Linked DNA regions of Homo sapiens: all the other regions are reported to be linked to region 1. Evidence: microRNA targets listed by miRTarBase, many of them from high-throughput screens and not tested one by one. Region 1 holds a microRNA gene; each other region holds the end of a gene's coding sequence.
What was found. Region 1 holds the annotated microRNA hsa-miR-4709-3p (UUGAAGAGGAGGUGCUCUGUAGC, at 4,138-4,160, opposite strand). A microRNA usually pairs through its seed, bases 2 to 8, with sites in the 3' UTR of a target mRNA and lowers its output. Matches are read on the target gene's strand: a 7mer-m8 pairs with bases 2 to 8, a 7mer-A1 pairs with bases 2 to 7 and ends in A, and an 8mer does both.

Region 2: the mRNA of ZNF425 is a reported target of hsa-miR-4709-3p. Seed matches in the 3' UTR shown: 7mer-m8 at 1,905-1,911.
Region 3: the mRNA of DNAJC5G is a reported target of hsa-miR-4709-3p. Seed matches in the 3' UTR shown: 7mer-m8 at 5,473-5,479.
Region 4: miRTarBase lists CASP5 as a target of hsa-miR-4709-3p. The part of its 3' UTR that is shown has no 7-base or 8-base seed match.

What each region holds. Positions count from the first base shown.
Region 1 is chr14:74,475,998-74,483,120 of GRCh38, forward strand. It overlaps MIR4709 (microRNA 4709), which reads right to left and starts at 4,207; the gene lies at 4,136-4,207. NPC2 (NPC intracellular cholesterol transporter 2) reads right to left here. Exons shown (of 5, transcript NM_006432.5): 4 at 4,705-4,782; 5 at 3,943-4,291. The coding sequence ends at 4,277. It also overlaps a transcript of SYNDIG1L not described here and the pseudogene RAP1AP.
Region 2 is chr7:149,097,820-149,104,942 of GRCh38, reverse strand. It overlaps ZNF425 (zinc finger protein 425), which reads left to right. Exons shown (of 4, transcript NM_001001661.3): 4 at 1-2,159. The coding sequence ends at 1,331. Among named protein-coding and RNA genes, the nearest start is that of ZNF786, 11 kb to the right of the region's middle.
Region 3 is chr2:27,278,909-27,286,031 of GRCh38, reverse strand. It overlaps DNAJC5G (DnaJ heat shock protein family (Hsp40) member C5 gamma), which reads right to left. Exons shown (of 7, transcript NM_173650.3): 6 at 5,799-5,866; 7 at 4,533-5,603. The coding sequence ends at 5,817. It overlaps TRIM54 (tripartite motif containing 54), which reads right to left and starts at 3,603. Exons shown (of 9, transcript NM_187841.3): 1 at 3,133-3,603. The coding sequence starts at 3,300.
Region 4 is chr11:104,989,161-104,996,283 of GRCh38, forward strand. CASP5 (caspase 5) reads right to left here. Exons shown (of 10, transcript NM_004347.5): 9 at 6,580-6,682; 10 at 5,083-5,187. The coding sequence ends at 6,584. Among named protein-coding and RNA genes, the nearest start is that of CASP4, 24 kb to the left of the region's middle.

The DNA of each region.
Region 1 (7,123 bases):
ATGTTTTCTCTTTGTTTTAGTAAAAAAATCATCTTACCACTAAACACTAATGTGAGAGTTACTTTGATTGCAAAACAGAAAAGAATCTTACAAGCATTGTGTGTGTACACTGAGAATCTCCATCAAACCTCATCTTTCCTATGTTGATCCATTTGCAGTATCCCCCTTTGTGGCAGAGGCATATGGATGGTTGAGGGTGTAGTGGGCAGAGCAATGCATTTCTCCAGCGCTGAGAACAGTCTGCTGCTGCTGGCCTGCTCTCTGCTTTTTGATCTGGCACACCCAGCAGCTCTGCCATGTTCAAGGCCAGCAGCCATCCATTTGTCTGCCAGGCTCCTTCTTGGCCTTACCCACTGGCAGTCAGAGCTAAGCTGATCTTTCTGCCTGCTGGCTGCTTATCTGGGACATATGATTTGTGGAGGACGGCCTGCTAGAAGGGAGCCGTCCTTCTCCAAGCCCCTGCAGGTGAGGGGAGCCACACTGACATGCCACGTCTGCTCCAGAATCTCAGGCTCTTAGTCTCCATTTGCAACTGCAAACACCTGTGCTCTGTGGCTAGCATTGGGCAGTGAGCAGAGAACAGGCATGGGAACATCTGCAGAAAGTAGAAGAGGTCACTGTTCTTCTGCCCCAGTCGAGAGGAGCTGGCCGGATCCACTCACCCACATTGCCCACCCTCTTCCAGGACCCTTGAGCCACCTATGCAGGCCATCTCCTGGTCTCCACCCTCCCCTCCACCCCTTTTTAGGAACCAAACCCCTGGTTTGGAGAGCCTGGTAGGTTCCCATAGCAATGGGCCTTTTAGCTGTTTCCATGGCAACCAACACCCAGACCATTTAGTTGCTAGTCAACTGACAGCTGTAAGTGAATCGGATTCAGTTTAGAATCTAGGGATAGGCTGAGGAATTCTCTTCAGAGAAAAAGACACAACCACCCAAAATGACTCAAATCCTTCAAAGACTTTCAGGCAACATCTGTGGAGATCCAGAGCCACTTTCTACTTTGGGTCACTCAACCCTGTCTCCCCCCAGCCCCATTCCCAACACACACACACACACACACACACACACACACACACACACACACACACACAACCCTGTCTCCCCCCAGCCCCATTCCCAACACACACACACACACACACACACACACACCCTCGCCTGAGTGTTCCAGGCCTTTAAATAAGGCATACCCCAACCTCTATTTCCTGTTCTGTCTCTTCCTTGGGAAAAACACTTGTTTAACGTGACTTTCACCTTGGCGACTTTCTTACACGACTCCTTTTTCTGTGCTAATGCTTTTCTTATATACTGTAACCCTGTCCTTGTACCAACCCATTTAACCATTGCTTTTTGGATTATCTGAAGTGAATGGCTGATCCCAGATCATTTTCTCTTAGTTGACCTCACCTATTTCAAGCCACTCTTCCTATGTCTGGAGGGTGTTCTCAGAGAACAAGCTGTTTTTATCAACCTTTCCAAAGCATAATCAAGATCACCCTGTTTCTTTTCTGAAAGACTTTGTGTTAAAAAAAAAAAAGATCACTCTGTTCCTTTTAAAAAAAGTCAACTAAGATTTAAAAACCAAATATGCAGGATTTAAAATTACTCCATGCTTGTTGCTTTTTATTAGTATGAAGATTTGACTGAATACTAGTCTTCATATTTAACCTTTTCCCAAACTGGAGATATGAGGTGTTGGGTTCCCTTTATTCTATAAGCAGGGGTGCCCCTCATTATTATTTCAACAATTAGAATCTGGGATTTATCTGTCCTGGAATTCATGTAAGAGCTGAGCCTCCAAAACCTGCTCCGTGGACTAGAAAAGCATGAGACGGTCATTGGAAAGAGGATGACCTTTTTGATATACCTAAGATTCAGTGCTTCTCAATGTTTTAATGACTCACGGGGGCGTCTGTGAACTGTCTGTAGAAGACGACCTTTCAAACTAATCCCCCCACGGGAGCCCTACCTAGCTCACGGCTGCAGGCTTCATGTAGCCCCGCGATGGCTGGCAAACAGTCACAAGCTGTTGTGTTCCCCTTTTGCTCTGATGGAAGGGTATAAACTAGCCGAAATACTTTTTAATTTCGATTTCTGAAATATCTACTTATACTCTTTGTCTTTAGTGCTTCCCCACCCTTTTCATTATCACTCCTTACAGGAGCTTTTATGGACCTTTTAATCCTAATCGACCACCCCACCAAATTTTAATACCGCAGATATAATATGTATCTGTTTATGTATTATCTGTCTGTTCCTGCTTTACACATAAAAAGATTAAGAATTTTTTTGTCCCTAAGAACAAATTTTCACAAAGAATGCAAGTTATAAACAATGAAAGATATACAGTATTAAAACATTGTTTCAAATTTGAAGAATAAGTGGAGGAAAGAAAAATATATTTTAGAACTTAGATATGTAAATTATTTCCAAAATAGTTTAACACTCAAACTAGTCAGCTGTATCAAAATCAATTCTCCCTGAAGTAGGCACTGTTCCTAGCTAGAGGCAAGTACTCATTTTGCATGGTATTGTGAGTCCTGTCTTCTTTTAACACAAGGGCAGAGGAGTATGCAGGGTGGGTAGCTGTTAACTTCAAAGGAGCTAAATGGCATGAGAAATCTTCTGGGAATAGGGAGACAGTGGACACATGAGAATTGAGCTTTTCCAGGCCTTTCAGAAAGTTCTTGTGCACAGAGGATAGCCTCATCCTTCTGAGGAGACATCATCAAATCTCAGATTGAACCTTCTAATTTTCCTGCTATTTGTAGACAAAGAAGAATGTCTGTCTCCCAGAGTGACAGCTAACATTTAGAGAGTATATACTATAGCCAGGGTCATTCTAAGTGTTTTACATGCCTCATCTCATTTAGTCTTCACAGCCCTATTATTATTAGTCCTATTTAACAGATAAGGAGACTGACACACAGAGAGATGAAGTGATTTCAAGATCACACTGGTAGTCCTGTTAATTGTTGGTGCCAGGATTCAACCATAGGCAGTCCGAAGCCAGAGACCCGCACAACAGTTAACAGCCTCAGGAATTCACACAATTCTGATACATCTAGAGTCTGGTATGGGAGACAAGGTGGACTGTCACTCTAGACTCAATGTGGCAGGATACACAAAAGATCTTAGGTAAAAAGTACACTGGTTGACTGGCTCCTAGCATTAACTAGGAAAGCTTGGCTGTTGATAACTGTATTCCTGATCCATCACTGTCCCCTGGTGGTTTTCCTGGGAAACTCACAGACCAAAGAAATCCAAGGGTCTAGTGAAATTAGTGGGATGAAAAGAACTGGATCAAATCAATCACTTGCTCACAAGCACTTTGTATGAATGTTCCTTCCTTTTGCCCTAACAATGGATGACCTAAGGTCCATGTTATTCAACTCAATTGTGAATGGGGTTGTAATCCCTGTACCACCTAAGAGCTGACTGCTAGTATACTGACTCAAAATAGGTGGCAAAATATATGCCCATGATTATACTTGTACTTTAAGATAGGAAACTCCAAGATTTAATTAATTTAGCCATTACTTGCTACAACTTCACATTTCATTTTTAAGCTTCTAGGCTTTCTTCACAGCAGTGTTCCCAAAAGATCACCATGCCTCATCCTAACCTGTAATCCCTAACCCCTACCTGCCCTCCCCACCAAATTCAGTTCCTTCAACCTTTCAGGCGTTATTATTCAACTAGGTGATTTTTACTTTCACTGCTTCTTTCGAGCATGCTTGGTGGTATAAGATTGTGTCAAATAAAGCAAAACAAGGCCATTTTATATAAAATAGATATGGTCTTACTGGACAAAAAGGAGGAAAAAGAGTTTCTGAAAAAGTCATGTCTTCAGTGCACTCTGGGACCACGGAACTGGGGGCCTGCCTTCCATGGTTCTAGCAGAATGTACCCTGAAAGGAGCAGGAGAAGACCACAGCCCACATGCAGAAGACAAGACAAACGAGTTTTTATTTATTCAAGAGTAAATTTCCAGGTGTAGAAAGAGGCCACAAGTTAATGTTGTTAAAAAAAAAATTAAACATCTGCTAACCAAGTGCTGCATTTAATGAAACCACCTAAGACAGAAAAAGAGACATGAGACAACCACTGAGAACCAGCCACCCGGAGCTCAGTTTCTGCTACAGAGCACCTCCTCTTCAACGAATCACTGGATACCATTGGAGAGCAAGTCACTGTTGTTGAAGCAGCAGAGCTGGAGGTGCTGTCAAGAGTCTCAGCAGACTCATTGGCCAGATGCACCGAACTCAATGAGGCACTTAGAGATGAGAAACCTGTGGATGTAATGTCCCAGCTCAGTGGAAGTGGTTTGGAACCTTTCCTCCACTGTCAGGGCAATAACCCTAGGGCAAGTTATCAGACATTCCTAAGCAACCTCCTTCAGGTCCTGTCTGGCTGGACCTTCCTTACTCCGACAGAAAAAAACCAATGAAGACAGTTAAATCAATCTCTACAGTCTCACTCTCTCTTCTTTCCTTCAACCTTTTTTTTTTTTAACAAAGGATATTACAAAGGCAACAGTTCTGAGCTCTCAGGAAATAGGGTCTCAGATGCTTTTAGAGGTTGAGAGGCATAAAACAGCAGTCTTGAAATTCCTTTTATCTTATGGCACTGATTTAGTTTCAGTCTGATTTCTCCTCCACTTTCTTCCCTCCACCCATGCCCTCTCACCCCCAGATAGACTTACGATCTGTACTGGGATTTCCCAGCAGAAGAGACTTTGGTTTTTGTCATCCTGAAGTTGCCACTCCACCACCAGTTTTATCTGGAGAAAGAGAAAAATAATTGAGAAAAATGAAAATAGGACCTGACTTCTATCCATAATTGGTTTAACTATGAATCCTAGATGTACAGTAGCAAACTTCCTAACTCCTCATACTTTTTTTCTTAAATCATGAGGGCTGCTTAGCATGTGGGCACAGCTTACAGCCTTAAGAGAGTGAACAAAGTTATACTTGTGATTTGATGCTAGCAGCACCACATACTAACTTGGTTAATTTATCAAATGTAATTTCTAAAGCATTCTCTTCTCTCTTAGATCAATGGCATATAAATGAAGTGATACGGTTTGGTTATTTGTCCCTTTGAAATTTCATGTTGACATGTGACCTCCAATGTTGGAGGTGGGCCTGGTGGGAAGTATTGGATCATGGAGGAAGATCCCTCATGAACGGCTTAGCACCGTCCCCTTGGTGATGAGTGAGTTCTCACTGACTTCACATGAGATCTGGCTGTTTAAAAGAGTCTGGGGCCTCCCCCTTCTCTTTCTTGCTTTAGTGCTGGCCATGTGACACGCTGGCTCCCCTTTGCCTTCTGTCCTAACAGTAAGCTTCCTGAAGCCTCACCAGAAGCAGGTGGTGGCACTATGCTTCAGGTACAGCTTGCTGAACCGTGAGCTGATCAAACCTCTTTTCAAGTTACCCAGTCTTAGGTATTCCTTTACAACAAGGCAAATGGACTAACACATGAAGGCTTACATGAATAATTTCACATTTAAGCAATTTCTCATGTATTTGGCAATCTGATCCAGCTTTTTCCCAATGTAACCATGAAGAGCAGAGAGTAAAAAAAATTTAGATTCTTAGGTATAAGGAAACGTTCTTGTTAGCTAGAAATGGAAATGTCAAAGCACAAAAGATGGCCTAGAGAAGTCTGTAGCTGTATGAATAATTTCAAGGATGACAACCTTTTGTAGCAATATACTTTCAGTTAACGCCCTTAAACTGCTTTCTAATAATGTACTTCATCAGAAATCCCTGCCTTGACTTGTTACACTCATATCACGTGAGTGGTCCCTTCCAATTCTTGATAACTCACTGACACTCTGCAGGTCCTTTCTTATGTGGACATTAGCTTACTTGTCACTAGTTACTACCTCTCTTTTGTACTCTAATGTTTCTTCACAATGGAACATGTGAGTGGCACTGATATTCAGGTTCTTGAAACTTGCCTTGTGAGTTTTTCCAGACTAGTATACATTAACTACTGCTTCATTTAGTGCTTAAGCAGTTTGAGCTATTTTTCAAATTAAATGTAACTCATTTAACAGACAATAACTACCATACATTAAGTACCTACTACGTATCAGGCTCTGACTAGTCACTGCATACGTAACTGAGGTTCAGACATGCCCATGGTTATGTGGATATTCATCTACTAATCTGTCCCTGACCTCTAAGGTCTCCAACAGCCCTTAAGCACAGACATCCTATATTTGAGTCTCTTTAGAATGTTCTTTAATTACTTACCTTTCCTAGAAAATAAATGGCCAGATATTGCTCCTGAGTTCTACTTGATTTCAAGAAATGCGGCTCTTTTTCTTCATGGAAAAAGGCCATCCCTCTATTTCCTCCATTCTTATCAAGATACATATCTTTAATACAGGTCCACTGCAGCAGGATCTACCTTATGAGTGCTTGGTAGAAAAAGAGGTAGGTGCAGCAGGGATGGGTCAGAGGTGAAGGTGGGGATTGGAGGGCAGAAAGAAGGCTGGAAAAAGCTACCTCTCTGCCATGGAGCTAACAAACTACTGCTCTCTTGTTTTGTTAAGAGATTAATGGAGAAACCAGGATTTTCTGATGACAATGTTAAGACAACTTGGATCTTTAATTATTTGGTACCTGGCTAAAATCTTTTAACATTGCACAGGCTTTGGAGTTATAAGACCCAGCTCAAAACCTGGGCTCCACTGCTTCTTAGTGGAGTGGACTCTGTTCATATTGCATAACTTCAGAGGCTCAAATTTCTTCAGCTGTAAAATAGAGATAATATCACCTCTACATAGGATGGTCATGAGATCCAAGTGAAATATTGTATATAAAAATGGCATCAGCCGTTGCTGTGCAGAGCCGAAGCAGGAGCCGCAGCTGGGAGGAGGGAGGAGGGAGGAGGGAGGAGGGAGGAGGAGGTGGAGGAGGTGCCAGACTGGGGGAATCATCAGTATTTAAACAGACCACATCACGGGTGAGCTAGTGGTCCTTGGTTCAGGAGGTGTTGGGCAGTCTGCTCTGATGGTTCAGTTTGTTCAGGGAATTTTTGTTGAAAAATATGACCCAACGATAGAAGATTCCTACAGAAAGCAAGTTGAAGTCAACTGCCAACAGTGT
Region 2 (7,123 bases), not on the chromosome of region 1:
CCTTCGTGCAGCAGTGCGAGCTCACGGAGCACTTGCGGCTGCACAGCGGAGAGAAGCCCTTCCAGTGTCCGCAGTGTGACCGGTGCTTCCGCCTGAAGAGGGGCATGAAGGTCCATCTGACCCAGCACAGCGGGAAGAGGCCCTTCCACTGTCCCGAGTGTGGCCGGAGCTTCTCCCGGAAGGCTGCCCTGAAGACCCACCAGAGGACGCACAGCGAGGAAAAGCCGTTTTCTTGTGGTGAATGTGGCAGGAAATTCATCTACAAGATTAAGCTGGACGAGCACATCAGAGTTCACACGGGAGAGAAGCCCTTTTCGTGTCCCGAGTGTAACAAAAGTTTCCGCCTCAAGAGAAGCCTGAAAGCCCACGGGCTGCAGCACATTGGGAAGCGGCCCTTCCAGTGCCCGGAGTGCAGCAGGGGCTTCTTCTGGAGGAACGCCATGCGCGCCCACCAGCGCCTGCACAGCGAGCAAAAGCCCTTCCCCTGCGCCGAGTGCGGCAAGCGCTTCACGCGGCCTTCCAAGCTCGCCTGCCACACCAGAGTCCACGACAGGCAGAAGGAGTTTCCCTGCGGCGAGTGCAAAAAGACCTTTTCTCAGCAGTCGCGGCTCACGCAGCACCTGAAGGTCCACACCACGGAAAAGCCGTTCTCCTGCGCCGAGTGCGGCCGCAGTTTCCGCCGACGCGCGCATCTCACAGAGCACACGAGGCTTCACAGTGGCGAGGAGCCCTTCCAGTGTCCCGAGTGCGACAAGAGCTTCTCCTGGAAGGCCTCCATGAAGTTCCACCAGCGGATGCACAGGGACGAGAAGCCCTTCGCGTGCGGTGAGTGTGACAAGACCTACACGCATCAGTCTCAGCTCACCGAGCACCTGAGGCTGCACAGTGGAGAGAAGCCCTACCAGTGTCCTGAATGCGAGAAGACTTTCCGCCTCAAGGGAAACCTGAAAAGCCACCTGCTGCAGCACAGTGGCCAAAAGCCATTCTCTTGTGTGATGTGCGGCAAAAGTTTCACTCAACAGTACCGGCTCACAGAACACATTCGAGTCCACAGCGGGGAGAAGCCCTTCCAGTGTCCGGAGTGTGACAAGAGCTACTGCATCAGGGGCAGCTTGAAGGTCCACTTGTATAAGCACAGTGGAGAGAGGCCCTTCCAGTGTCCCGAGTGTGGCAAAGGCTTCCTCCAGAAGAGAAGCCTGAAGGCCCATCTGTGCCTTCACAGTGGGGAGAGGCCTTTTTCTTGTGATGAGTGTGGAAGGAGCTTCACGTACGTGGGGGCGCTCAAGACCCACATTGCAGTGCATGCCAAAGAGAAGCCCTCCAGCCTCTAGGTCAGGCCATGCAGCAGTCACGCAGTCGGCTTTCAGGAGGTGCCAGCAGCTCTGTTGGCTCAAGTTGAGGCAGGTTGAAGGATTCACAGGGTAAGATCGGGCACAGTGGCTCCCGCCTGTAATCCCATTACTTTGGGAGGCCCAGGTGGGAGGATCGCTTGAGCCCAGAAGTTTGAGACCAGCCTAGGCAACATTGCAAGACTCCATCTCTACAAAAAATATAAAAGTCAGCCAGGCGTTGTGGTGCATGCTTGTGGTCCCAGCTACTTTGGGAGGTTGAGGCAGGAGGATCGCTTGAGCCCAGGAGGCAGAGGCTGCAGTGAGCCATGCTCACACCACTGCACTCCAGCCTGGGTGACAGAGCAAGATCTTGTCTCAAAAAAGAAAAAAAATCACAAAATACTGGCTACAGACACACTGGACAGGTGTGTGGTCTGCAGAACTCTATGGCTCCTTGACAAAAGTTCCAAATAATCCATAGACAGTCAAAGAGACATCTCCCTCAATAATCGTCATAGGAAAGACGTGCCAGTTGTGGAGGAAACATTCACACTGATCTGCTAGTCCAACGATCTCTTCAGTGTCATCCAATAATCCCTTCATTAAATTCAGAAACTACAGCCTGAGTGAAGAAATGTTACAGCCAGGAACATATTCCTCAGTCAGCTTTTCCATTACCAGGCCATTTTACTTAAATCTGTATTAAAGTCTTCAGTTTTCTCTCATAGTGGATTTTCATTTTCTCTCAGATGGTGAGAGGGCTTCTGTTTCTTGGAATGTTTCCATATTGCTAAAAATAAATGTCTTCCACTATCTCATTTGTTAAAATGATTACCCATGTGTTCTTTCCTTCTGAATTTTACTTAAATCACCTAAAAGTCCACCACTGTGAGTAACAGGCAGTGTTATTTATCTAACCCCTCTGCATTTTCAACAGTGTTATGTCAGTTCTCAAAGAACTATACTTAACATTAGGGTCTCTGAGGAAAATACCAAAGGATAAAATACTGTCAGTCCACAGCACCACTATTTTTTTTTTGCCCTGTCGCCTAATCTAACATTATAAGATTTTCCAGGCTATTCTGGCAAACCCTCATCTGTCTCTCAGACTGTCAATCTTTGACATTACTCGTTTTTTTTTTTTCTTGAGATGGAATCTCGCTCTGTCACCAAGGCTGGAGTGCAGGGGCGCCATCTCAGATCACTGCAAACTCCACCTCCTGTGTTCAAGTGATTCTCCTGCCTCAGCCTCCCGAGTAGCAGGGACTACAGGCGTCTGCCACCACTTCTGGCTAATTTTTTGTATTCTTAGTAGAGACGGGGTTTCACCATGTTAGCCAGGATGGTCTCCATCCCCTGACATCCGTGATCCGCCCACCTCGGCCTTCCAAAGTGCTGGGATTACAGGTATGAGCCACCGCACCCAGCCTTTGACATTACTGTTAGGATAACTTACAGCCTTCCTTAGGAAATTTGAGTACCTTCATAAATTTTGTGTGTGTTGCACAAAACATGGTCCCCAGTTACCGAAGTCAGAATCTGCTGGGATCAAAGTCGCTACAAGAATCACAGCGTCGGCCGGGCGCAGTGGCTCACACCTGTAATCCCAGCACTTTGGGAGGCCAAGACGGGCAGATCACGAGGTCAGGAGATCAAGACCATCCTGGCTAACACGGTGAAAACCCGTGTTAAAATACAAAATACAAAAAATTAGCCGGGCGTGGTGGCGGGTGCCTGTAGTTCCAGCTACTCGGGACGCTGAGGCAGGAGAATGGTGTGAATTCGGGAGGCGGAGCTTGCAGTGAGCCGAGATCTCACCACTGCACTCCAGCCTGGAGGACAGAGCGAGACTCTGTCTCAAAAAAAGGAAAAAAGAATCACAGCATCTATACAAAGAGGAAAAAGGTGCCGCCTGTGTTTGGGACAGTCCTGTGGGTAGGGAATAGGCTGCTATTTATGTGGTACACCTCAAAAAACAAAACTAAAGTGCCAGTGATCAGATAAATGAAATGCCAACAGTTTAACAGGTAGATTCAGAACTAAAAATAAAATAATGTGAAAATAAAGACATTTTTAAAAAATGCTTTTCAGAAAGAGTTTTAAAAGATAATGGGTGAGGCACGGTGGCTCATGCCTGTAATCTGAGCACTTTGGGAGGCCAAGGTGAGTGGATCACCTGAGGTCAGGAATTTGAGACCAGCCTGGCCAACATGGCGAAACCCCATCTCTACAAAACTTAGAAAAATTAGCAGGGCATGGTGGTGTGCACCTGTAGTCCCAGCTGCTTGGGGGCTGAGGTGGGAGGATTGCTTGAGCCCAGGTGGTTAAAGCTGCAGTGAGCCATGTTTGCACCACTGCACTCCAGCCTGGGTGACAGAGTGAGACCCTATCTCTAAACAAATGAAAATAATAATAATAATAATGAGTACCCCACAGTACCACATGCTGCAGAAAGAGGTCAAAGAAGAAGTTAAAGGATTATAAATGTCAGTGAGAGATATTACCCTGAGTGGCTGAAGCAAAAGCATGGGGCTGAGTAGAACACAGAAGAGAAGGGGCAGTTCCATGACGTAGTTCAGAAAGCACAGGGCTTAGAGTAAGTCCCACAAAATAAAACAGACCCTCGCTCTGGCCTTGGGCAAGACACTAGAGCTCTGTAAGTTTTACTTTCTCCATTTAATATAATGGTGAGGGGAGGGTACCTTTATGAAAATCAGCCACATCTACAAAAATAAATGCTGTTTTTCAGCTATACTGGTAACACAGGCATTCTCTAGTATGAGTTAGGTGATGGATTGCAGTACATGGAGTGGCCTACAGAATCACTCCCAGTCCACACATGGGGGACTGGCACAGAAACAGCAATAAGGAGTGCTTCTGAGGTCAAACCGAGGCAGGAATTAGGAGAAGAAAGTGACCAAGTGCAGGTAGAGAATGGGGAGGAGCTGAGAACAAGGAGGAGGGGTAGCTTTAAGAAAGGAGAGACTAGGCGCCATGGCTCATGCCTGTAATCCCAGCACTTTGGGAGGCTGAGGCGGGCGGATCACGAGGTCAAGAGATGGAGCCCATCCTGGCCAATATGGTGAAACCCCGTCTCTACCAAAAATACAAAAATTTGCTGGGCTGGTGGCACGCGCCTGTAGTCCCAGTTACTCAGGAGGCTGAGGCAGGAGAATCGCTTGAACTCGGGAGGCAAGGGTGGCAGTGAGCTGAGATCGTGCCACTGCACTCTAGCCTGGTGACAGAGGGAGACTCTCAAAAAAAAAAAAAAAGAAAGAAAGGAGAAAGGGCAGGGCGCGGTGGCTCACGCCTGTAATCCCGGCACTTTGGGAGGTCGAGGCAGGTGGATCACCTGAGGTCAGGAATTTGAGACCAGCCTGGCCAACATGGTAAAACCCTGTCTCTAGTAAAAATACAAAAAATTAGCTGGGCGTGGTGGCAGGCACCTGTAATCCCAGCTACTCGGGGGGCTGAGGCAGGAGAATGCTTGAACCCAGGAGGCGGAGGTTGCAGTGAGCCGAGATCGCGCCATTGCACTCCAGCCAGGGCAGCAAGAGCGAAACTGCGTCTCAAAGAAAAACAAACAAAAAACAAGAAAGGAGAAAGGAACTGTGGTAAGCATTACCTGGAACTTCCCAGATGCTCATGCTTATCAGGAGCCAAGTAGAAGTTTCTATCTAAGCTGTCTTTGCCCCCAAATCTGGTCACCTAAGTAAGGGAGTATAAATTGTTTCATGACCAGTACTCAGATTCTGGAAATAAAGGCCAAGTTAATAATGGACACTATAATGTGAGGATGAACATGAGATTATGAATGTGAAATACATAGTGTCTAGTCAAGAGTAGGCATTCAGGGCTCGGCACGGTGGCTCATGCCTGTAATCCCAGCACGTTGGGAGGCCGAGATGGGTGGTTCACTTGAGGGCAGAAGGTCGAGAGCAGCCTGGCCAACATGGGAAAACCCTGTCTCTACTACAAATACAAAAATTATCCGGGCGTGATTGCATGCACCCATAGCCCCAGCTACTCGAGATGCTAAAATGGGAGAATCACTTGAACCCAGGACGGAGGTCACAGTGAGCTGAGATCATGCCACTGCACTCTAGCCTGGGTGACAGAGCAAGATCCTGTCTCAAAAAAAAAAGAGTAGGCATTCAGTAAGATGTAACCCCATGTTATGAACGGAATCATGTCCCCTCCCCTTTCCAAATTCACAGGTTGAATCCCTAACCCCCAGTGTGACTGTAAGATCAACATGACACCTTTACTAGTCATAAAACTAACACAGGAGAGCCCAGCGTGCACATGACCTGAGCAAAGTGGGTGAGGAGGCAGAGGCTGCAAGTGCTGTGCTCACGGAGCTCCCCCTCAGTGGAGAGGAACACCAAGAATGAGGGAGAAGCGCGCCCACCTCCAAAACCAGCAGCAAGCTATGGCTGTTTGTGTGCGTGACTATTTGGCTGTCCCTAGCTGCATCTGGTACAGCCATCTCTTCTGTTACCACATATGTGCTAATGACTTTCAAATCTATAAATCCATATTTTCAACTTGTGCCATGAACATCTCAAACACAAAATGCCCCAAGTAAGACTTGTCACCTGTATCAACCCTCACTCTACCCCCGTTGTTGTTGTTGTTGTTATTGTTGTTTGAGACGGAGTCTCGCTCTGTCGCCCAGGCTGGAGTGCAGTGGCGTCATCTCGGCTCACTGCAAGCTCTGCCTCCCGAATTCACGCCATTCTCCTGCCTCAGCCTCCCGAGTAGCTGGGACTACAGGCACCCGCCACCACGCCTGGCTAATTTTTTTGTGTTTTTAGTAGAGACGGGGTTTCACCGTGTTAGCCAGGATGGTCTCGATCTCCTGACCTCGTGATCTGCCCATCTCGGCCTCCCAAAGTGCTGGGATTACAGGCGTGAGCCACCACGCCCGGCCGTTTTTTTTTTTTTGTTTTGTTTTGTTTTGTTTTGAGACAGAGTCTCGTGCTGTCACCCAGGCTGGAGTGCAGTGGCGCGATATCGGCTCACTGCAAGCTCTGCCTCCCAGGTTCAAGCAATTCTCCTGCCTCAGTCTCCCGAGTAGCTGAGACTACAGGCGCCCGCCACCACGCCCAGCTTATTTTTTTTTTATTTTTTATTTTTTTGGTATTTTTAGTAGAGGCAGGGTTTCACCATGTCAGGCTCGTCTCGAACTCCTGACCTCAAATGATCCGCCTGCCTCAGCCTCCCAAAGTGCTGGGATTATAGGCATGAGCCACTGTGCCCGGCCTCTACCCTTCTTTGTTAGACTGTTCTGTATTTCCTACCTCTGTATACTAAATCTACCTCATCTCCAAAGTTATAAATCTGATGATGCACCTAGGTTTTCTTACACCCAATCTAGCATCTAGCTCCTGATTCTTCCCAAACAAGATCCTTTCTCGCTATCTCTGTTGTTACTACTTGAAGCTCACTTTATTTATTTATTTATTTATTTAATAGTGTTTTCCTTGACAGGTTTCCTTGCTTCTGGCTTTTTTCCTCCAGTACATTTATCATCCATCTGCCAGATGGGTTCTTCTAAAATGCAATTCTAACATTGGTCCCTTCAAGAAATACTTAGAAGTTTCCCATTTTGGCCGGGCGCGGTGGCTCATGCCTGTAATCCCAGCACTTTGGGAGGCCGAGACGGGCGGATCACTCGAGGTCAGGAGTTCAAGAGCAGTCTGGCCAACGTGGTGAAACCCCGTCTCTACTAAAAATACAAAAATTAGCCAGGCATGGTGGCACATGCCTGTAGTCCCAGCTACTTGGGA
Region 3 (7,123 bases), not on the chromosome of region 1:
GTCTTAAATTCCTGGGCTCAAGTGATCCTCCTGTCTCAGCCTCCCAAAGTGTTGGGATTACAGGCATGAGCCACCTTACGTAGCCAGTATTTTTAAATAAATTGTTTTCAAATTTTGCTTCCTGGCTGTCTAGTTAACTTGGTCTTATAAAATCACAATTCCCAAAAACTCTTGTTTGTTGTCCATCACGGCAGTTTTTAGGACAACAAAACACAGAAAACCATCTAAATGTTTTAGAGGACAGATTATTTAAATAGACTGTGGTCCAGTCATAACAATGAAAACTACACAGCTATTTAAAAACGAAGACATAAATCTGAATGGTGGATATGGAACAATCACCCACAGCGAGTAAGTGAACAAAGGCAGGTGGGGGGCGATGGGTCTCGCCTGAGAACACATATACATGCAAATGTGCCGATTTGTGGAAATTTTCTGGAAGTATTCCCAAGAAAGTTGGTAATAGTTACTTCTATCTGGTGAGACAACTGAGGGTCTGAGGTGAATAGCAGATTTGCTTTTCATGATATGAACTCCTATACTGCTTGAAAACAGTATGTTTACATGTTACAAATTCTAAGTGATATACTGGTATCACTTTGATAACCGTTAACTTTCTAGGCAATGCTCTAAGGGTATTCTTCCTAAGTGGTTTGAAGGTAGAGGAAAAGTCCTATTCTTTCCAAAAGTCCTATTCTTGCCCCATACTTAGAAAACAGACAATCTGATTATGCCTACAGTTGTCAAAATGTGGAGGCAATGTGCGAAAAAACTAAATATGCTCATCTTTCAGAGGGAGATCTACTGAGATATATTGAGATACACAGATCTAAGTGCAGCTGAAGAACTGGGTCAGCCTCCCACCAGGCCCTCCCAAATAAGCAGCAAGGGATGAGCTGTTCACTCTTCCTCCTTGGAGGGCCCAAGGGTGCTTTGCACCTCAAAAGATACACCACTCCAGATCCACAGAGCCACCCCAAAGCCCTGGGTATCATGTTATCTCCAAATATTCTGTACAGGATTTGCCCCAAGCCATTCCAAGGTCTCTCTGAGCCCAGATCCGTATTCTAGAGCTTTCTGGAACTGAAACAGTGTGCTTGGATAGAGAGAGTTGACTTAAATAAGCAGGTCACTTAAACACATTCTAGCCTCCATGTATGGGGCCTATTCCTCTGCCAGATGACAGAGGGACCCAGGAATGCACTTGGCCCTTCTGACCACTTTTCTACAGGACACATCACCTTAGCTTTCAAAACTTCTCTTTGCTTTCACACATTTCAAGTTCCAGTGTGAGGATGTTTCACTGTAAGTTCATGAGAAAGGATGGCAAAATCTTTCTGCCATTTCCCTCCTAGGCATCTCAGCCTGAAGGATGTTCAGAGTTACTTAGACCAAGGAAAAACCAAGATGGTGGGCAAAGCATTGCCTCTCATGTAGGACTTCATGCCCAGGACGAGGAGGCACAGCATTTGGTCTAGGCCCCCCGAGAGGGAAAATCTACTGGCTCTGAGATACTCTGGAGCTGAATAATGGCAGGTTTGGACACATAAAGAATAGGAGAGGGAATGGGTCTCAATGGGAAGATGGCAGGAGAGACCACAGAGTGCTGGTCTTCAGTGAAGGTGGCACAGAGCAGACACACAAGGTGTGGGTCACAGGGTACATTGTGGGATGGCCTGACCTAGCCAGCCCATTCCTTTCCAAAACAAGCTGCCCCAAGGAACTTAAAAAGGGAAGTATTTTCTTGGTTAGGTTAAAAATCACTTGTGTTTAACACATTTCCTCATCATTTCTGACACAGATGAAGAATACTTGTTTGGGATGTTCCATGTCACTGACACACATACTAAACCAGCCAGCTCTGGTCTATTCGGGGTTTGTTTTTGTTTTTGTTTTTTTGAGATGGAGTCTTGCTCTGTCGCCCAGGTCAGAGTGCAGTGGCATGATCTCGGCTCAAGGCAACCTCCACCTCCTGGGTTCAAGTGATTCTCCTGCCTCAGCCTCCTGAGTAGCTGGGACTACAGGCGCCTGCAACCACGCCCGGCTAATTTTTGTATTTTTGGTAGAGATGGGGTTTTACCATATTGGCCAAGCTGGTCTTGAACTCCTGACCTCGTGATCTGCTGGCCTCAGCTTCCCAAAGTGTTGGGATTACAGGCGTGAGCCACTGCACCTGGCCATATTCAGGGCTTTTACTTAACGGCAAGGCCGTGTGTGTGTGTGTGTGTGTGTGTGTGTGTGTGTGTGCGCGCGTGTGTGTGTGTGTGCCTTTGCCCCTCACTCTCCCTGATCTCTGTTCCATTTTATAGCCTACTAGAACCTCCCCAGTAGCACAGGAAAAAAAAAAAAAGCCCACTTATAATCCATTCTGGTATATGCTGCTTTTATTTCTAAACCAGTGGCTATACTAGTATCTGTGAATTTGATTAGCTCTGCTTGGCCCCATGACCACAGATAAAACAAAACTGGCTGGACTTCTGAGAAGTAAATTTCTTTGCCTTCTCCCTGCTTGTCAAGTGACCTCAGTAGCTTTTAACCAGTAGGCCTCTTTACTGAACAATCTGGAGGGTAACAGGTATGAACTCAAGTTGGGGAGAGTTCCCAGTCTCCTGCCCACTATGTCTAACTCTGTCACCCACAATGGATGCCTTCAACTTTCCTTAAATACAAATAGTTTTACTGCCATTATGGAGCTTTCTCACAGGGTCGGGTTTTGTTTGTTTGTTTTTTAACGTTTCATTATCTCATTAATCTTTTCTCCGTATTTTCCACAATGCTCTCGAAGTCTGAAACTCCAAACTGGAATGCAGAGTCTGGCACAGGCTCTTATAAAGCCCGGTGTGGGATACCCTCCCTCCCAGTTTCCACAGGGTCTACTTTCCTTGGTAGATCCCAGCACTCCAGCTGCCGTCTATGCACAGGCTGTACCTGCCAGCCTGCAGGGCAGCTGCTGACTCATGCTTGCTCTGGGATTTGCTTGGACCCCAGCCCTTCTGCTCTCCAGCCACAACAGCCACCACCCACCTCAGAGAGCACTCTATCCATCACCTTCTGGGGTCTCAGCTCTGACCTGATCAGTCCCCCACAGGTCTGCATTGCTTTACCTGGCCCTGCCCCGTCCCTGGCACCCACCTGGAAGACGTCGTTGGCACATTTGCGGCACAGGTTGTGTTGGCAGGGCAGGATCACCACTGGTTTGGAGAACATCTCCAGGCAGATGGGGCAGATGAGCTGCTTCTCCAGGTTGTCCATGCTGTGTGCATCCCCTAGCAGCGGCTTGAAACCCACTGTGAAGTTCATCCCCTCGGTGGTCGTGCCTGGCCTGGGCCCTGCTCCTGGCCTTCACTCACTGCCTGTAGACCCTTCCTCGCTTAGATGGCCTCTGGATTCCCTTCTGTGGCTCACTCTTGAAATAGCTCTGCTTTCTCTCCTGTCCCTTTAACAACTTGTCTCGTCCCAGATAGCAGTCTTCGGACAGTCTCTACTTTCTGCTCTGCACCCTCGCCAGGCTCACGTAGTTTTAGCTATCCCTCTCTCTCTGTAAAATTCTCCTTTTGTTTCCCAAATGACTCTCTCTTGTTCACTCTGTGGGTAGCACTGTTTGTCCCTTACTCCCCAGAGAGCAGATTAATTTTACTGTGGGGGTTGGGAGACAAGGGGCATCTGCATGACATTCCAATTCCCAATTTAGCTCATGTAAGGCGAGCCACAGCTGTCATGGAGTGAGTGACCCTGACTCACTCAGGAATGGGTGACTCCCTTGAGCAAGGGCAGGGGTGAGTGCCACTGCTTACAGTGAAAGGTGGGTCAGCAAAGGTGCTGCCCTCTCACTCTGAAGGCTCCTCTCAGCCCGGGACCCCTGTTCTGGCTTGGGCCCTTCTTCCAGGACAGTGACACAGAATCTAAATCTGCCTGTGTGAGAGGCACCCATACATAGCTCAGGGTGGGAGGAAAGATCTTGCCAGACTTAGAGTCAGTAGCGGTTGCCTCCTCCACAGGCTCAGCCAGTGACCCTGGTCCTCCTCCTCAAGACTGTGTGATTCAGAACAGCAGCTCCAGGGACTACATCAAGCCTCTTGTCCAACACCTCTGGCTCATTTTTGTTCTTCCCTGGCCTTTTCTTATATCACCCTAGGAAAAGAAGCTCAAGAGGCTAGAAATGACTGTTGTGCCAAGGCCTGGACCTACCTATGAGCATGCCCCCGAGGAAATGTGGGATTCTGGTCCGTGAACACATCCCTGGAGCCACTCCAAGGACTCAAATTTGTTAGGAAATTGGGAGAAGGTGAGCTGGGCAGAAAGGACCTGAATGCCAGGGACCTATTTTGGGCACCCAGGGAATCAATCTCCAGGGAAATTTTAGAGCACTGACAAAGTCATAATCACAAGGCTCCGGGAAGCCTCTGACCCAGCTCCACAGTTGTCCAGGACTCCTACTCTCCAAGCCAGGCTTGCCCCACTTGTGAGCACTGGTCTTCTTTTTCTCCTACAAGTCTTCTCCACTTGATCTTAGGCAAAAGGCCAAGAAGCAATTTCTTTAGGCCTTTTTTCTCTACCCCAGACACAATTTGTCTTTTTTGGGCATAATATATGCCTTGGGATTGGATGAAAGCTCTTTTATTTACTGACATTCTTTAGCCTTTCTCCTAGTCCAGGGAGAGAAGTTTGAGGAATTAGTAGGCTGTGACCCTGAGTGGGTGGGAAATACACGGTGTGAGGAGGATACGAAACAGCAGCACAAAGAGGCAAGAGTGGGAAAAGAGTCCAGAAAGTACAATCTTTTCCAGATCACATATTTCATGCCCCTATTTTTAAGAACAAATTATATGTCAATTGGCCTGCATAATATGTGAAAAGGATGGAGGCAAGCTGGCACTGATGTTTGAACTTCAGTTAACCTACAGGACCAAGGCTAATGCATGCTGTGCTGGTAGCTGAAGTCCAAGGATAATCTAAAGATGGAATGACTACCCCTAAGCCTCAAATGCACTCGCAGTTTTCCTGAGTTGACTCATAGTGGCATGGAATGAGGCTGGCAATGCCAATGGCCGTGGGCACCAGAAGATGAAACCAACTCCATACAGGCGTTATTGGCTTAGGAATGAGGCTGATGCTAGGGGTTCTTGGTACACAGAGTTGCAACAAGGGAGAATTAATGGGTGCAGCAGCTCCAGGGACAGGATCCACCCTGCTCAGTTATCAGGCTCTTGGTGGTGATATCGCAAGGGGCTCAGGGATCCTACCAGCTGGCATTGGTTCCAATAACAAGGCAGACACAGGAAAAAGACTCTTCAGGAAAAATCTGCCACCACTGCCTGAGACCTCATAAGGGGAGGGAGGGGAGGGCTGCTTTCTGACGGAGTAAAATTGGGACTGCAACTGAAAGGAAGAGTAGCTGGGCAACCCCATACAGAGTTGTGGTACCAAGGGTAGAGGTGATGTCCTTACTGGGATCAACGTCATCAGTGCTTCTGAAGAGATTCTTGAGATCCTTATAAGAAGAGGGGTCAAATCAGGGTCAATGTCAGGACAGGGCTACTTGCTCCTCTCTTCAATGTGTCCAGGGGACTGGGCAGCAGAAGGCACCCTCACTGGGTCAGCACCTAGTGGCGGAAGAAGGTGGCGCTTTATTAATCAGAAGGAATAATTACCTAGAACTTAAAGCAAACCCCTACATGTAAGGATATAAACACATAGTCCATACTATAAGGATGTAAACTTTCTACTAATGACTCATCTGACGTTAGCTTACATGCTTTTCTTATCTGATAACTGTTGCTGCCTTTCGGTTTACATACCTCATCCTTCTTCATCTCTTAAAAATCATCTTCGCTATTTTCCTCGCTTCTAAAATCACATTTGGCTCCTATGATGGAATTATATATATGTTTACATATACAAACGTTTAGTAACTTTTCGTAGTGTACTGATGAGAAAACCGTTACCTTGCAGTTACTCATTAGCATCACCAGGTGGCGCTGGTGTCAAGTTCAATCAGCTTATAAAAGTTCATTTGGGGGGGAATGATCTCAGACTTTCCTTTTCTTTTCTTCCTCTTCCTCTTCCCCTCCCCCTCCTCCTCCTTTCCTTCTTCTTCTTCTTCTTTTTTGATACAGGGTCTCACTCTGTCACCCAGGCTGGAGTGCAGTGGCATGATCACAGCTCACTGTAACCTCAACCTCCCAGACTCAAATAATCCTCCCACCTCAGCCTCCCCTGTAGCTGAGACTACAGGTGTGCACTGCCATGACCGGCTGACTTCTGTATTTTTTTTTTTTTTTTTGTAGATACTGGGTTTCATGATGTTGCTGAGGCTGGTCTCAAACTCCTGAGCTCAAGTGATCTGCCCACCTTGGCTCCCCAAAGTGCTGGGATTACAGGCACAAGCCACTGCAACTGGCCCTTTCCTTTGAGTAGATGGAAAAAATTGCATCCCGCCAGGCACAGTGGCTCATGCCTATAAACCCAACACTTTGGGAGGCCAAGGCAGGTGGATCACTTGAGGTCAGGAGTTGGAGACCAGACTGGCCAACATGGCGAAACCCTGACTCTACTAAAAATAAAAAATTAGCCAGCTAATTTTTTAGTAATCCCAGCTACTCAGGAGGCTGAGGCAGTAGAATCGCTTGAACCCGGGAGGCAGAGGTTGCAATGAGCTGAGATCGCACCACTGCACTCCATCCAGCCTGGGTGACAGACTGAGACTACATCTCAACACCACCACCACCAACAACAACAAAACAACAACAACAAAAATTGCATCCTCAAATCTGTCTTAACCTAACTGTCCTCTCTAGACATACTCTCCCACCCCATTCCTTAGCTTAACAGGAGCTGACACTACTACCTTCAAACTGTCAGTTTGTCGTGTGATGCACAGAAACATATTGATCTTTTTTTTTTCTTCACTTTGTCCCAGTGCCAGACTTGAAGACTTGAAATTGTCATATTTAGGGATTAACCTGCCATTTTCACAGGTCTTTCTCACCCTCAACCATTTCTTTCTTTCTTTTTTTTTTTTTTTTTTGAGATGGAGTCTCACTCTGTTGCCCAAGCTGGAGTGCAGTGGCATGATCTTGGCTCACGGAAACTTCCGTCTCCCGGGTTCAAGCAATTCTCCTGC
Region 4 (7,123 bases), not on the chromosome of region 1:
CAGCATGGTACTGGCATAAAAACAGATGCATAGACCAATGGAACAAAATAGAGAACACAGAAACAAATTTACACACCTACAGTGAGCTCGTTTTTGACAAAGGTGTCAAGAATATACCCTGGGGAAAAGATAGCCTTTTCAATAAATGGTGCTGGGAAAACAGGATATCCATTTGCAGAAGAATGAAACTATAACCTTATCTCTTGCCACATACAAAAACAAAATCAAAACTGATGAAAGATTTAAATCTAAGACCTCAAATTATGAAACTACTAAAATAAAACATTAGGGAAACTATTAGAACATTGGTGTGGGCAAAAATTTTTTGAGTAATACCCCACAAGCACAAGAAACAAAAGCAAAAATGGACAAATAGAATCATATCATGTTAAAAAGCATCTGTGGAATAAAGAAAATAATCAAGGTGAAAGACAACCAACAGCATGGGAGAAAATATTTGCAAACTCTCCAAATGAAAAGGGATTAATAACCAAAATTTATAAGGAGCTGAAACAACTCTATAAGAAAAAAATCTAATGATCTGATTTAAAAATGGGTAAAAGAAAAAAATAAAAATGGGTAGAAGATTTGGATAGATATTTCTCAAAAGAAAACATAAAAACAACAAACAGGCTTATGAAAAGATATTCAGCACCATTGATGATCAGAGAAATGCAAATCAAAACTCCAATGATACATCATCTCACCCCAGTTAAAATGACTTTTATCCAAATGATAGGCAATAAACAGTGCTGGTGAGGATGCAGAGAAAAGGAAACATTCATACACTGTTGGGAATGTAAATTAGTACAACCACTATGAAGAAGAGTTTGGAGCCTTCTCAAAAAAAACTAAAGATAAAGCTACCATATAATCCAGCAATTCCACTTCGGGGTATGTAGCCAGAAGAAAGAAAATCAGTATATTGAAGAGACATCTGCACTCCCATATTTTTTTGCAGCACTGTTTACATCAGCTAAGATTTGGAAGCAGTCTAAGTGTCCATCAACAGATGAATGGATAAAAAAAATATGGTACATATACACAATGCAGTACTATTCAGCCATAAGAAAGACTGAGATTCTGTCATTTGCAACAACATGGATGGAATGGGAGATCATTGCATTAAGCAAAACAAGCCAGCCACAGAAAGACAAACATCACATGTTTTCATGTATTTGTGGAATCTAAAAATAAAAACAATTGAACTTATGAGTATAGAGAGTAGAAAGTTGATTACCAGAAGCTGGAAGGGTAGTGGAGGGTTGCAGGAGGAGGTGGGAATGGTTAATAGGTACAAAATTTATTAGAATGAATGAATAAGACCTAGTAATTGACAGCACCCCAGGTGACTATAGTCAAAATAATTTAATTGCGCATTAAAAAATAACTAAAAGGGGATAATTTGATTATAACACAAAGGATAAATGCTTGAGGGTATAAATATTCTATTTTTTCATGATGTGATTATTATACATTGAATGTCTGTATCAATATATCCCATGTATCTCATAAGTGCATTCATTATTTGTGATAACACCAAAATTAAAAGTTAAAAAGCATCTCATACTTTTCTCTGTTGTTATACATATTCTCCAACTAAAAATGATGGTGGGATTATGGATCAAAAGATTACAAGGCAAAAGATTACAGGGACCATGTCTTTAAAATTAAAACTTTCAAAATATGTGTAAATACTTGCTAATGTGAGTATATGTCAACACTATTTACTTCTTTCACTGGATGTTAGGGAAAAAAGGAACGGGGTGGATCCTTCTGGGTAAAGGAAAATAGTTTCACTAAATTCTTGTCTTTATTTCAGAAAATGCCTGCCCTTCAAGGCAGATAAGAGAGTATTTTTTTAATATATTTTAAGTCTAATTTTCCCCTTTTAAGTCAAATTCTTCTTTTCTCTTTGGGTGACATTACTGATTATTATTATCTCCAATGGAAGATAGCTACATATATGAATGGAGGGAAAGAGAAGTCGTTTGGAAATGAAAGACTAACAGAAAAAGAACTCATATTATTTGAACCCAATTCATTTTTACTTTGATTCCTAGTTACGAATTCTAATTCTATCCAACCTTAGTTTTAAGAGTCTTGGCAAAGAATTGTAACACAGGCAATTTTGGCTTCCTGTATGCCATTCAACCTGCTGTCCATTCTGCAAGCCATCTTTCTTAATTATAAATCTGACTATAAATAACGCCCCTGTTTAATAATATTCTAAAATAATTTACACTGTCCCCAGGACAAATAATTACTCCTATATATTTCATCAGTACATCTAATCTTTTCAAACCATACTTCAACTTTTACATTGCAACCATACAATTTTTTTAATTCCCAAATTTGTCTTATCGTTTTGCACTCTCAATTTTGGTGCGTGATTTTTCCTCCCCCTTATAAAATTCTCTTTTTGATATAACAAATTTATCATAATAAAAGCATGCACACTTACATGCAAACATAAGTCTCTGTGTTCTGTTTTCCTGTCAATTTTTAACACCGTTAATAACTCAAATTAAACTCCTATTTTTCATTGTACCACCACTAGTCTCTAAATTGCTGGGAGTTCTCACTCCACTGTTGCCTGCACAACCCTGGAAGTATAAATTTGGAAGGTGAGGGGACAGAGGCTGACTTAAGGCTGCCAGTGATACTCCCTTCACTATTTCAAAAAGTCGCATAAGTGATCTCTTTTCTTCTCTCTCCAATTCTGTTCATGTGTCAATTGGGGTATTGTTTATCTATCACACTCACTTGGGTTTTTTTGTTTGTTAAATATACAAAAGACTGATACTTAAATCATTTTTTAATAATAAATATAGGTTTGCCACTAAAATTAAACAATAGAAAAGTTTGTAAAGTGGAAAAGGATTATCCACACTCTTTAATTTGACACAAGGTAACCCCAATTATATGTTTAGCTTGCATCTTTCTGAATTTTTTCTATGCTTTTGTAAAACACTTAATATATTACCGATTTTATTGATTTCCTTAATCATTGGCTTCCTAGTATCCTTGACCTTTGCTTCAACCCTGTAACAGTCTTATGACTTGGTTTTGGCCAACATAATGCAGTAGAAGGATCTCGTGCAATTCCCAGCTCAGGCTTTATGAAGCCTGGTGCTCTTCTTCCTCGTGGACACCTGAACCTAAATGAGGACGAGCCTGAGCCACATTGCTGGCTAATAAGACACATCATGTGGAAAAGAGCCCAGCTGCCCCAGCCAGCCAAGGTCATTCTAGACCAGCCATGTGCTTTCCAAACATATGAGAGATCCCAGCCTTTCAGTAAAGATGCCTACCCCATGCAGAGGTGATCTCAGACACATGGATAATCTCAGCAGAGTCAAGACCTACCTAGCTAACTGGTAACCTTGTGAACAATAGCAAATGCTTATTGTGTTAAACTACTGAGGTTTTGGGTGTTTTGATACCCATAAATAAATAACTGGCAGACACATATTTACCTATACCTTTTTTCCTTATAGCACCAGTATCATATATTATCAACAATTTGCTCCATTTGTTTAATCTTTGCTTCACAACATAGGACAAACCCTTTAAAAATTCAACACATTAAAATTCAATACTACCTGATTTTTAGAAATCTATAAATTATTAAAAGTGTCAATTCAATATAATTTTAAATATTTTGTCAAAGTAATACATTCATGAGACAGTCCATAGTACAGAAAAGAATACAATAAAAATCATATTTCCCAGTACAACTCTCCCCACCTTTAGTCCCACATACTAGAGGTAATTTCCTTCAATTATTTTTGTTTTGTTTTGTTTGGCAGTAACATTTGGAATTCTCAATAATGACTATTATACCTCTGTGTTTCCCGAAATATAGAACATAAACAATGCCATTGACTACCTGATATGAAAAATGAGATGCAGCTCACTTACATAGCCACATATCTGGTCTATTCTACCTAATATTTGATGATGTCATGATGTTCATACTTTTTATTGATTAATTGTGGAACAATAAATAATATATTTAATCCTAATTTCTTCTTTCATCAATGTTGCTCAGTAGTTAAATTTTCTCTATGTAAGTTGATTAATGTTGCCCTCATACCTTCTCACTTTCAATTATATCATTATATTTTTGCAATTTTTATCGTAGTAAAATGCCATAACAAAATTACAAGCTTAACAATTTTAAGTGTACAGCCAAATAGTATTAAAATACATTCATAATTTTGCACAACAATCACCCATCTACCTCCAGAATTCTTTCTATCTTGTAAATCTGAAACTTTATAACCATTAAATGACACTTCATTTTCTCCTGCCCTAGCACCTGGCAATCACCATTCTACTTTCTGTCTCTGTGAATCTGATAATCTAGGTACCTCATATAAGTGTGATCATATTGTATTTTTGTGTGTGTGAATGGCTTATTTTACCTGGCATAATGTCCTCAAAGTTCCTCTATATTTTAGCATATGTCAGAACTTCCCTCCTTTCTATGCTAAATTATATTTTATTATATCTATATACAATATTTTACTTATCCATTTTTCAGTCCATGGATACTTTCGTTGCTTCCACATTTTAGATATCATGAACAACGTTGCCATGAATATGGGTGTATAAGTGTATCTTTGAGACCCTGCTTTCAATTATTTTAGGGATGTACCCAAAGGTGGAGTTTCTGGATCCTATGATAATTCTAGCTTTAATTTTGTGAGGAACTTCCATACTGTTTTCCACAGTGGTGCCATTTGACATTGTCACCAACAGAGCACAGGGTTCCGATTATTCTACATCCCTGCAAACACCTGTTATTTTGTGTTTGTTTGTATGTTTTGATGGGAGTCATTCTAATGGGTATGAGGTGGTATCTTATACTTTTAACACCATCTTCTTTCATTCTATTGTTGGCGGTAAGTCACAGCCAGTCGTCTTCATCAGCCAAGTATAGATGTTACATGAGCCATAAAACTCGAAAATCTAGTTAGTTTCTTCCACTTCATTTTCACTCGTCCACCATTTTCATTGAAATTATATTGTCTATTAGAGAATCTAAAAAGATACAGTTCATACAATCTAAAAAGATACAGTCTTTACTTTTATTGAAATACCAAATATTGACTATGCAAGCTATACTGGTAAATGTGCTCTTTGATGTTGACAGAGGAGGGCTGGGCTGCCTGTGGTTTCCTGCAGAAGAGAGAAAGGACAGAAGGTCAAGATGGTTACCCCTCACTGCCTTCATCCCATCCTTCATTATGATTCTTCTTCCATCTTCTGCCATATGCTTTTGCCATTTCCCTCGACTTCCATCTGTGACCTCTGTGTCTATTTAGTGAAAAGTACTCAGGAATATCTTTGTAAAACCTAAGTTAAATTATGTCACTTCTCTTTTCCAAAGCACTGGAAGGGTTTCCTATCTACTCAGATAATATTTTTTTAAAGATTTACCATGTGATGTTCAAGCACATTGTGATGAGGCTCCTCACTGTTTCTCCTAATTTGTCTCTGTCAGTTCCCTCACTTGCATTCTCTTTTGGTCACACTATCTCATTGTAGTTCTTTTTAAACCTGTTCAGCATATTTCTGCCCCAGGGCATTTGCACTTGTATTCTGTGCTGGAACACCTCTCCTGCATAAGAACCACATGATTCACTCTCCAACTCTGTGCATTCTTTATTCCAATTTCATTATTTCAAGGCAGGTTTTCCTGAATAAAGTACCTATAGTTGAGCATGTATTTTCTACAGTCCCATAACTGTGGCTGAATGTCAGTAATGAGACAGCCAAGTAAAAAGGGCTCCCTGGCAGAACCTCCCACCAGACTGTGCACTGGGAAGAATGCACACTGGGGTGGAGCCTTGGGAAGTTCATGCCATTTGCAGCAGGGAGAAGCCTGGCCCCTCCTCTTCCTGGGTGGTACCTGGTATTCAATCTGCGAGGCAGGAAGGGCATTAGCAGGACTCTGGCTCTGTGAAGGGTCTGTTTCCCATTTTTTTCCTTTTCACACAATAAACCCTGCCCTCCTCACCTTTCAGATTGTCTGTGAGTCTAATTTCTCATGGTCGTGTGACAAGGACCCCATCTTTAGCTGAACTAAGGAGAAAGTCAACAACAGTAATGTGATATGTGCACTCAGAGGACCAAAGCCCTGCTTTCCCCATAGATAGCTCCTGTGTTTACTCTGTTTTGTTCAAGGTCTGATGCACTGTTTGGTAACTAAGTGTGGCAGGTGGGAGAGAAACAGAGAGAGAGACAAAGAGAGGGAGTGTATGAGAGATAAATGAACATAATTAATAATGGTAATATTTGTACATTATTATTTTAATAATTACTAACCTAGGACTTTCATTGTGTATTACATTTTGCTGCAATTTTCCTTACCCTTTGATTGATTATATAGTTGAGGGAAACTAAATGCATATAAGTAGAATAAAAAAGAGCAAATAAATACTCACCAGACTACATCAATAAAGAACACTAACTTGACCATATAAGCAGTCAGCTGTCATTGGTCATTGAACTTCACCACCGATATAGCTCTTTCATTTATTTCACCCTCCAACAACTCTCAATACTTACATTTTCAATTGCCAGGAAAGAGGTAGAAATCTCTTGTCAAGGTTGCTCGTTCTATGGTGGGCATCTGGGCTTTAGCCTGTGGAACTTCAAATGATTTCTGTACCTAAAAGAAAAAACAGTAGATGAGATATGAGGGATTTTGGGTTCTCAGAATGCATCTTACACCATGAACCAGGAAATGCCTGAATGAAGAGAGCTTCCAGGGTTGATAGGACCAAGCCCATGGATATTCCAACTCCTTAACACTGCTACTCTACCTCTTAGAATTGACACCCCATGTCATACTGTACACTTTACATCAAAATAAACACTGCATGCCTAGTCAAGGCTTTTCAACCTCCATTTTCTCTATTTTCCATTTTTGACCTACGGATGTGGAAATCAATTAAATATCCTTTGGGATATGCTCATGAGAACTGGATATGGAAGATTTAGTACTTTCAACCCCCACCAACGCTGATTCTTCAATTTAAGGAGAATTAAATCCCAGAATCTTGCTTTAAGGCCTGAACACTGAACAACTTTCATGCCCACACCACCATGC